Linked DNA regions of Homo sapiens. The protein of the gene in region 1 purifies or fractionates together with the protein of each later gene. This does not show direct contact. Each region holds a gene or a part of one and is shown on either strand. Other genes may lie near its edges.

Region 1 (3,911 bases):
GGCCCCAGCCAGCCCGAGGGGGTCAGAGTGCCAGCAGCCCCGTGAGGCCGAGGGGACACAGCGAGCTGGACACGGGGCCTTCCTGCCCAAGGAGAGCGCCACCCTGCCTCCCCCGAGGGCGGGCACCCAGCGCAGGGTCAGAGAGCATGCCCTGACCGGGGACCAGCCTGGGGGGCAGACACTGAGGCCAAGGACCTGGCCAGAGCCCACAGGACCACGAGCCCTGCCCAGACCAGACCTGGCGCTCCAAGGCAGGGAAAGGTGGGCGTGACGGGGTCTCAGCTAGAACCTCTGGGACTGCAGGCCAGCCCCACCCAAGGCCAGCCTGACCTTCCCTCCTGCAGGGCCCAGGTGTTTGGGCAGAATGTTGCCAGAGCGGGCACCATTCCCCAGCCACAGGCATTATCAAGTACTAGAGCTCTTCACCCCACGGACGTCCAGCACACAGCACAAGTGCACGCTGCGGCCGAGGGGAAGGCCTCCTAGGAGAGGTGAGACTGGCTCATCCCTGAGGGAGGCCAAAGTGGAGCGGGTCACCGGGGCTCACTCCGGGAGGCAGGAGGCCGTGTCACTCAAGGTCAACTTCCATGAGTCGACTGAGCTCCAGGCCACACCCTCGGACACAGCAGCCAGACCCAGGCTCCGCCCGGACAAGGTCTGACTCAGCCCACGGGACAGGACAGGGAGCTTGGGCAACAGCCGCCCTGTCTTCCTTTTTCTGCAGGACGGGGCCAGGCACAGAACGAGCTCCCCAGGCCCAGCTGGTGCCTGCCTGGCCGAGCCCGGGAGAGAAAGCCCACCCTGCGGAGCCGAGCCCGCCGCTCCAGCCTCAGCCCTGTCCTGGTTCCTCGGGGGCCTGAGTGGGGCCCACAGCTGACTCACTGAGAAGAGATGCGTCTGAAGCGTGCGGGGCAACGTGGGAGGACGATCTGTCTGACTCCCTTCCTCATCTCCCAGCCTCGACCCTGCCTGCGCTCGCCCCCTTGGGTCCTTTGAGTCTCATCCAGAGCACTGGGCTGCCTTCCGGGGTGGGTGTTGACCCAAGCTCTGCTCCGCCTGGCCCTCATGCTGCTGGTTGGAACCCGGGATCCCTGGTCACTGGCTGCAGATGAGTAACCTCCAGCCTCAAGGGCACTTGGCTGGAGTGAACATGGTGCTTACGGCTCACTGTGGTGACCCAGGCAGAGACCATGACGACTCTTGGTGTCAGGGTGAGATTTCTGTGTGCTCCATGATGACTCGTGGATATTAATAAAACAGTGAAGAACTGCAGCAGGAGGCCCTTGACTGTCCAAGGAACGCCCCACACCTACGACACCCACTGACTCTTGGACCATGAAACCAGCCCTGCACCCTCAGACACTCCACCCAAAGCCAGTTATGGCTTCCCCAGTGCCTGGACATGGTGGGCCAGGACGCCAAGCCACAGCAGTGAGTTACGGCTCGTGCCAGCATTGTGGGCAGCAGGCAGCCCCTGGGCCCATCCAGCAGATCCCGGGCCTGTCTCGGCCAGAGGCTGGCCCTCCATACCCAGCCAGCAAAGGAGGAGGGGAGAGGCCCCGGGGTCCACCTGGAAGAGCCCTGACCCAGGCCTGAGAGTGACTCCTGCCCCTGCCCCCGAGCTTCCTGACCATCCCCGTGACCTGGCGCCTCCCTGAGCTGTGGGTCCTGCTGCCAACTCTAGCTGTTCATTGCACGTTGGCCAGATACTGCCTGACCAGTTCCTGAGGCTCCGGGGGATGGCTGATGAGGGCACACAGGGCGGGAAAGGCTGCAGCGTGCAACACCTGAAGGGGGTGGGGGCAGGACGGAACCCAGCCCAGCCCAGGAGCCGCCCCTCACTCAGAGTCAGGTGGAGGGGAGGGCGGCTCCAAGCGCGCCTCTGCTGTGTGCCTGCTGTCCTGGGGCTGGGAGGCGTGGAAGGAGAGAGGGCCAACGCAGGGCCACCTGTATGTGACTGGCTGGGGAAGAGGGACCCAGGCTGGAGCCACTGAAGGCTGGGAAGGGCTGGGACTCCGTGACTGGCAGATCCCCCGGGGCACCCAGCCCTGCTCTGTGCCCTGGGCCCAGCCACCTCCAGGACAGACAGTGCCCCCAGTGCCCGCAATCCCTAGCCACCTCCAGAAGGCACCCCCCGCCCCCAGCCAGCACCTGGCACCTCGGGCTGTGGCCACAGGAAAACAAAACCCGGCTGGTCCGAGGGACTGAGGGTCCCGGAGCCACCTGTCCCCGCCCCTGCCCCTACCGTGGCGTTGGAGCAGTTGAGCAGGCTGATCGCGAGCAGGAACACCCAGCGGCGCGCGTAGGTGCGGTGGCCCCGCTGCGCGCACAGGGCCCGGGGCTCGGCCAACCCCGTCTCGGCCTCCGTCGGCCCCGCCATCGTCGGCGGCCTCCACGGGTCTCCGCCGGTCCCGCCGGCCGCCCGGGCTTAAGGACCTTCCCGCGTGGGCCGGGACCGCCTGCGGGCGGAGGTGGGGCCGGGCCGGGCCGGGCCACGGGGGGCCAGTTCCGCCCCAAGGACTACGGAGGAGGGTCCCGCCCCGTCCCAGTTAAAGGAGACCCAAAAAAGCGGGGGAAGGGCGGGCAAAGGTGAAGTTGGACCCTCCTCCTTCGGCCTCAGGCTGGAAGTCCCTGCCACAAAAACCGAATGTCCCTTCCGGGAAGGGCCCCGGTCACAGCCTGTGTGCTTCTCAGCAGGAAAGGCGGCCTGGAAGTCACTCTGCCCAGCAGAAGCTCTGCACTTCCTGAAGGGGGCTGTGGACCCCAAGTTCCTGAGGTTCAAGCCAGCCACAGGGAGGGGCCAGAGGCCAGCCTGGAAGAAGAGGCTGGGCTGGCTTTGCGCAGAGCCTCAAATCAGACCAGTCCCTCTACAGCCCCTGCGGGAAGCAGGCATGGGGTAGGAGGGCGAGGGGCTGCAGGCCAAGGCTGGAGGGAAGGCCAGAAAGGCCTGTGGGCCCCACCCTGGGGTAGGCAGTCCGCCACACACGCACCGGATTGTTACCTGCATTTTACAATGGAGGACACGGCTCTCAGAGGAGTAGGCACAGGTTTCTGTTTGTTTAGGATGGAGAGGCCTGTGTGTTGGAAGGCAGAGGAGGGAGTTTCGGCTTAGTCTTTTCTGCAAGAACCTGCTGATCCCACAACTGTGCCTGGCCCACCCTGGGGGAACCCAAGAGGCTCCAGGCCCTGTTGCTGAGGCCAGTATAGGGGTGGGGTGGAGGCTGGCCTGGTCAGACGTGCAAACAGGATTTCCCCCAAACAGGGAGGCTCTCTTGACCCTTGAAACCATCCCCGTTTCCTGAACAGTATTATTCGTGGTTTTTGTCTTAAACATTCATCTCCTTTGCCAGGGCCTGTCCATTTTCCACACCTGAGTCTGAACAGGCTAATGATGAGGCCCCAGCTTTCACTGTGCAGTCTTCTGCAGGGATTGTGTGTGTGTCTCAGATAGAGCTCTCCACTTTGGGATTTTTTTTTTTTTGTAGAGTCTCATCCAGTAACAAAGAGAAAATGGAGCTCACCCGGGGTGTCCTGAGATGGGTGGGCCCCAAGGGGGTTCCATTCTCTGAGACGTGTGATGGAGCCCTGTGGTCCTCACTCTCTTTATCTCCTCTGCCTTCCCCACCGTCTAGCCTCCCCCCTCATCTTTGTTCCCCATTCCCCCACCAGTTCCTTCTGTTCTCCTTCTCCTCACCTCTTGCTCGCCCTGCCCTGAGGACCCAGCCCCCTCACAACCTTCCTCCATAGTCCAGTGCCAATGTTGGCCTAGGGCCTTCAACATCCCCTAACCCCACCTGGCAGAGGGGGAGTTGCAGTGCAGGCTTCCCTGTTGAGGGACCTCACTATTGTGGAGCACTGCCTCTGACAGGTGGTGTCTGAGCCTGTCACCATGAAATGGGGCAGCCACAGTA
Region 2 (3,811 bases), on another chromosome or scaffold:
GAGTCAACACTGAGAGCATTCAAAAGACTATCTCACAAACCCTGAAAGCAACACCAGACATCATAATTTGAAAACAGGGACATAATTAGAATAAGTGTAGAACTTCCCAGAATGACTCCTTTGAAGGAGGCATTCATCTGATATGAGTTGGAATGTTTATTAAAAACAAAAACCAAAAAAATCAATCCCTTGACTTCAGATTCAGCCTTCAGATATAGCTTCCTAATGGCTAGCAGTACTCTCATTTAACTGCATTTTGTATAAATTTTTTGTCAAAAATTTAATGTCATGATAATTTGAGCCCGAGGCTGCAGTGAGCTATGACTGTGCCACTGAACTCTAGCCTGGGTAACAGAGCAAGACCCTGTCTCAAAAAAGAAAGAAAGAGAGAGAGAGGAAGGGAAGGAGGGAGGGAGGGAGGGAAGGGAAAATTCAATCTCACTACTTTAACATCATAAATAATCTTTAGAACTTTGAATACAAACAAATCTGGGGTCTTTTTCCTGCCACAATTTTTGAAATCATATTAAATATTAAAATGTAGCCTGGAAGGGGGGAAAAAGGTCTAAAAGCTACTTTCAGTCTCAGATTTGAGAGAACAGCCCTAGACTTTGTGTTGGTATGATGAGAAGGGAGAGAAATGTATATATGGCAGCTATTTTAGTCCATTTTCGGTTGCTGTCTCACCCTGTTCAGTCCATCTCGCCTTAATCCTTGCATTCATAGTTCCCACTGCAACTTGAGGTTCATCTATCCACTCTTAGAATTATGCTTACATTTTGTATATCTTACAGAAGTAGGGTCTTAGATCTGGGCATTGGGTGGCATAAACCACAGAAATTTATTTCCTCAAAGATCTGGGGGCTAGCAGTCCAAGATCAAGGTGTCTGGCAGGTTTGGTTCCTTCTGAGGCGTCTCTCCTTGGCTTGCAGTCACCACCTTCTAACTGTGTCCTGACATGGTATTTCCTCTGTATGCATGCATCCCTGGTGTCTCCTTGTGTGTCCAAATTTTCTCTTCTAACAAGGACACCAGTCAGATTGGATTAGAGCCCACCCTAATGGCCTCATTTTAACTCAGTCACCTCTTAAAACTGATAGTTAAGATACAGAGCAGTTAAGATAGTGTCTCATTGTCATGTGCTGGCAGAAGATGTTTTAAATGAAACTCCTGTGAACTCATTCATTCATTTGTTTAGGTTTGTTTGTTTGTTTGTTTGAGACAGAGTTTCACTCTGTCGCCCAGGCTGGAATGCAGTGGCGCCATCTTGGCTCACTACAAACTCTGTCTCCTGGGTTCAAGTGATTCTTCTGCCTCAGCCTCCCAAGTAGCTGTGATTACAGGAGTGCACCAACACGCCTGGCTAATTTTTGTATTTTTAGTAGAGACAGGGTTTCACCATGTTGGCCAAGCTGGTCTCGAACTCCCGACCTCAGGTGATCCACCTGCCTTGGCCTCCCAAAGTGCTGAGATTACAGGCATGAGCCACTGCACTTGGCCTCATTTAGTATTTTTTAAACATCTATACAGTTTTAGGCAACAAGGGAGACAGGAAGACTGTCCTCAGGAGGTTAGCAATATACAGGGCATAATGAGCAGTCTTTCGAAGCAGGAATTGTCATATCAACTCTTATATCCCCAGCACCTTACACACTGCCTTGTAAATAGTAAGCTGTTCCAAAAAGTTGATATTGATCTGAAATGAATCCCTGTGCAGAATTTCTAAACCTGGTCGAAAAAAGCTCCTTTAGTGTTCTATTAATAGCTACTTTGTATTTAGGTAGAGCACTAAAGAGAAGCAAGCCATTACAGAGAATACTATACCAAGGAAGATATTTCCACTTCCTTTCATAGCCTTGCTACTTCCTCAAAGTAAGGTCCGTGAAACAGCAGCATGAGTCTCACCTGGGAACTTATTAGAAATGCAGAATTTTATGCCTCACCCTAAATCCACTGAATGAAAATCTGCATTTTAGCAAGCTGCCAGGTGGCTCCTATGTAACATTAAAGTTTGAGAAGCATTGCCTTCAGAGACCCCTTATTAACAGTGTTTGGTAGATCTACTTAAGATAGAATATAAGACATAATGAACAAGGTGGATGTTCTCAGGCTGCAAGCCATATAACATAGTGGTCATTTTCTTTAGGAGTTATACATTTGCACCATAGGTTAGGAGGTGAAAGCTGGGTTGAACTGCTTTCCTTTACCTTTAAAAATAACGTTTTTGGCTGGGCGCAGTGGCTCACGCCTGTAATCCCAGCATTTTGGGAGGGCGAGGTGGGTGGATCACCTGAGGTCAGGAGTTCGTGACCAGCTTGGCCAACATGGTGAAACCCCATCTCTACTAAAAATACAAAAATTAGCCAGGTGTGGTGGCACACACCTGTAATCCCAGCTAATTGGGAGGCTGAGACAGGAGAATTGCTGAGACAGGAGGCGGAGGTTGCAGTGAGCTGAGATCGCACCACTGTACTCCAGCCTGGGTGACAGAGAAAGACTCTGTCTCAAAATAAATAAATAAATAAGAAAAAAATAATTTTTAAAGCTGGTCTTTAATAGCTCTTCCATTTTCCTTACTTCCTTGCTTCTCAAGTAACGTAACCACCAACAAATCCCTTCGAAGGTAGAAGAGGAAAATGACGATATTAATAGGAGCCACAGTTACCATTAATTGAGCACCAACAGTTCTTCCAGGCACCATGCCAGGCCCTTTACATACTCAGAACAACCCTCCTGGGTAGATGTCATTAACTACATTTTACAGATGAAGAAACTAAAGCTCGGATCAATAACATGACTTGTACAACTTTCCATAACTAATAACTGACTGAACTGTGATGTGAACTACATCTGTAGGACCCGAAAGCCTGTTCTTTCCCTGCTACACCTGTCTTATTCCTTCCTCCATCCTGGAATTCCTGCCACCCACAGGGTTCAAAGGTAGCCTTTTCACCTCTGATTGCTGCCCATGGCTGATTCACCTCCAGTTTCTGCAGGTTAGTAATGTAGCTTTATAATTACAGTAATTGCTAACATGCATATTGCACTTGATAAAACATTTCTATATACCTTCTCTTGTCCAATCTTAAACAACTCTGCAGTTACAGGTGATGATATGGGATTTTATCTTTTTACTTCTTATGAGTTGCAAGTCTTTAGAAGTGGGGAAGAGGAAAATGGTCTTTCACACTAGAGTGTGAGGTTTACAAAAGGGAACAATATTTCTCACCACTGGACTGTAAGTTCCTTGAGGACAGAGAATGAATCTTACTTATTTTGTATTCTCAGGACAAGTATAGTGACCGCCATGGCTAGGGGATGTATAACCATTTATTGAATAAATGGTTTTAAATACCTAACTTCTATATTTCTATGTTTGAGTGAGGTGAACCCTAAGTACGGAATAATTAATGTTGTTCCTTGATCCCAGCAAATCTCTCCTCTTCCTCTTCATGGGCCTCTGTCCCCAGTAAGTGGCACCACTTGTCCCTTTAGTCTCCCAGACTAGAAAGCTTTCCTTTGCATTCACCTCATCCTATTAATCATTGTCGTCTGCACAGGCTGTCATTAGAAAATAGCATAGACTGGTGACCTAAACAACAGAAATTTATTTTCTCGCAATTCAAGGCTTTGACATCCAAGATCAAGGTTTTGGCCAACTCAGTTTCTGGTGAGGACGTTCTTCCTGGCTTGCATGTGGGTGCCTTCTCTCCATGGCCTTTCCTCAGTGCCTGTCCACAGACAGCAAGAGGCTCTGGTCCTCTCTTCTTAGAAAGACATCAATCCTGTTGGATTAGGGCCCACCCTTATG

What was found.
Region 2: the proteins of SLC49A3 (region 1) and CNNM1 purify together in Homo sapiens (affinity purification with mass spectrometry; one large-scale study listed by BioGRID and IntAct). This does not show direct contact.

The regions. Positions count from the first base shown.
Region 1 is NC_000004.12:686,748-690,658, forward strand, and holds the start of SLC49A3 (solute carrier family 49 member A3), read right to left. Parts: upstream 2,405-3,911; 5' UTR 2,381-2,404; coding exon 2,246-2,380; coding exon of another isoform or gene 2,159-2,245; exon of another isoform or gene 2,152-2,158; intron 2,119-2,151; exon of another isoform or gene 1,338-2,118; coding exon of another isoform or gene 1,162-1,337; exon of another isoform or gene 1,068-1,161; coding exon of another isoform or gene 883-1,067; exon of another isoform or gene 725-882; intron 599-724; exon of another isoform or gene 1-598.
Region 2 is NC_000010.11:99,332,145-99,335,955, forward strand, and holds part of CNNM1 (metal transporter CNNM1), read left to right. Parts: intron 1-3,811. UniProt on the Homo sapiens protein: Probable metal transporter.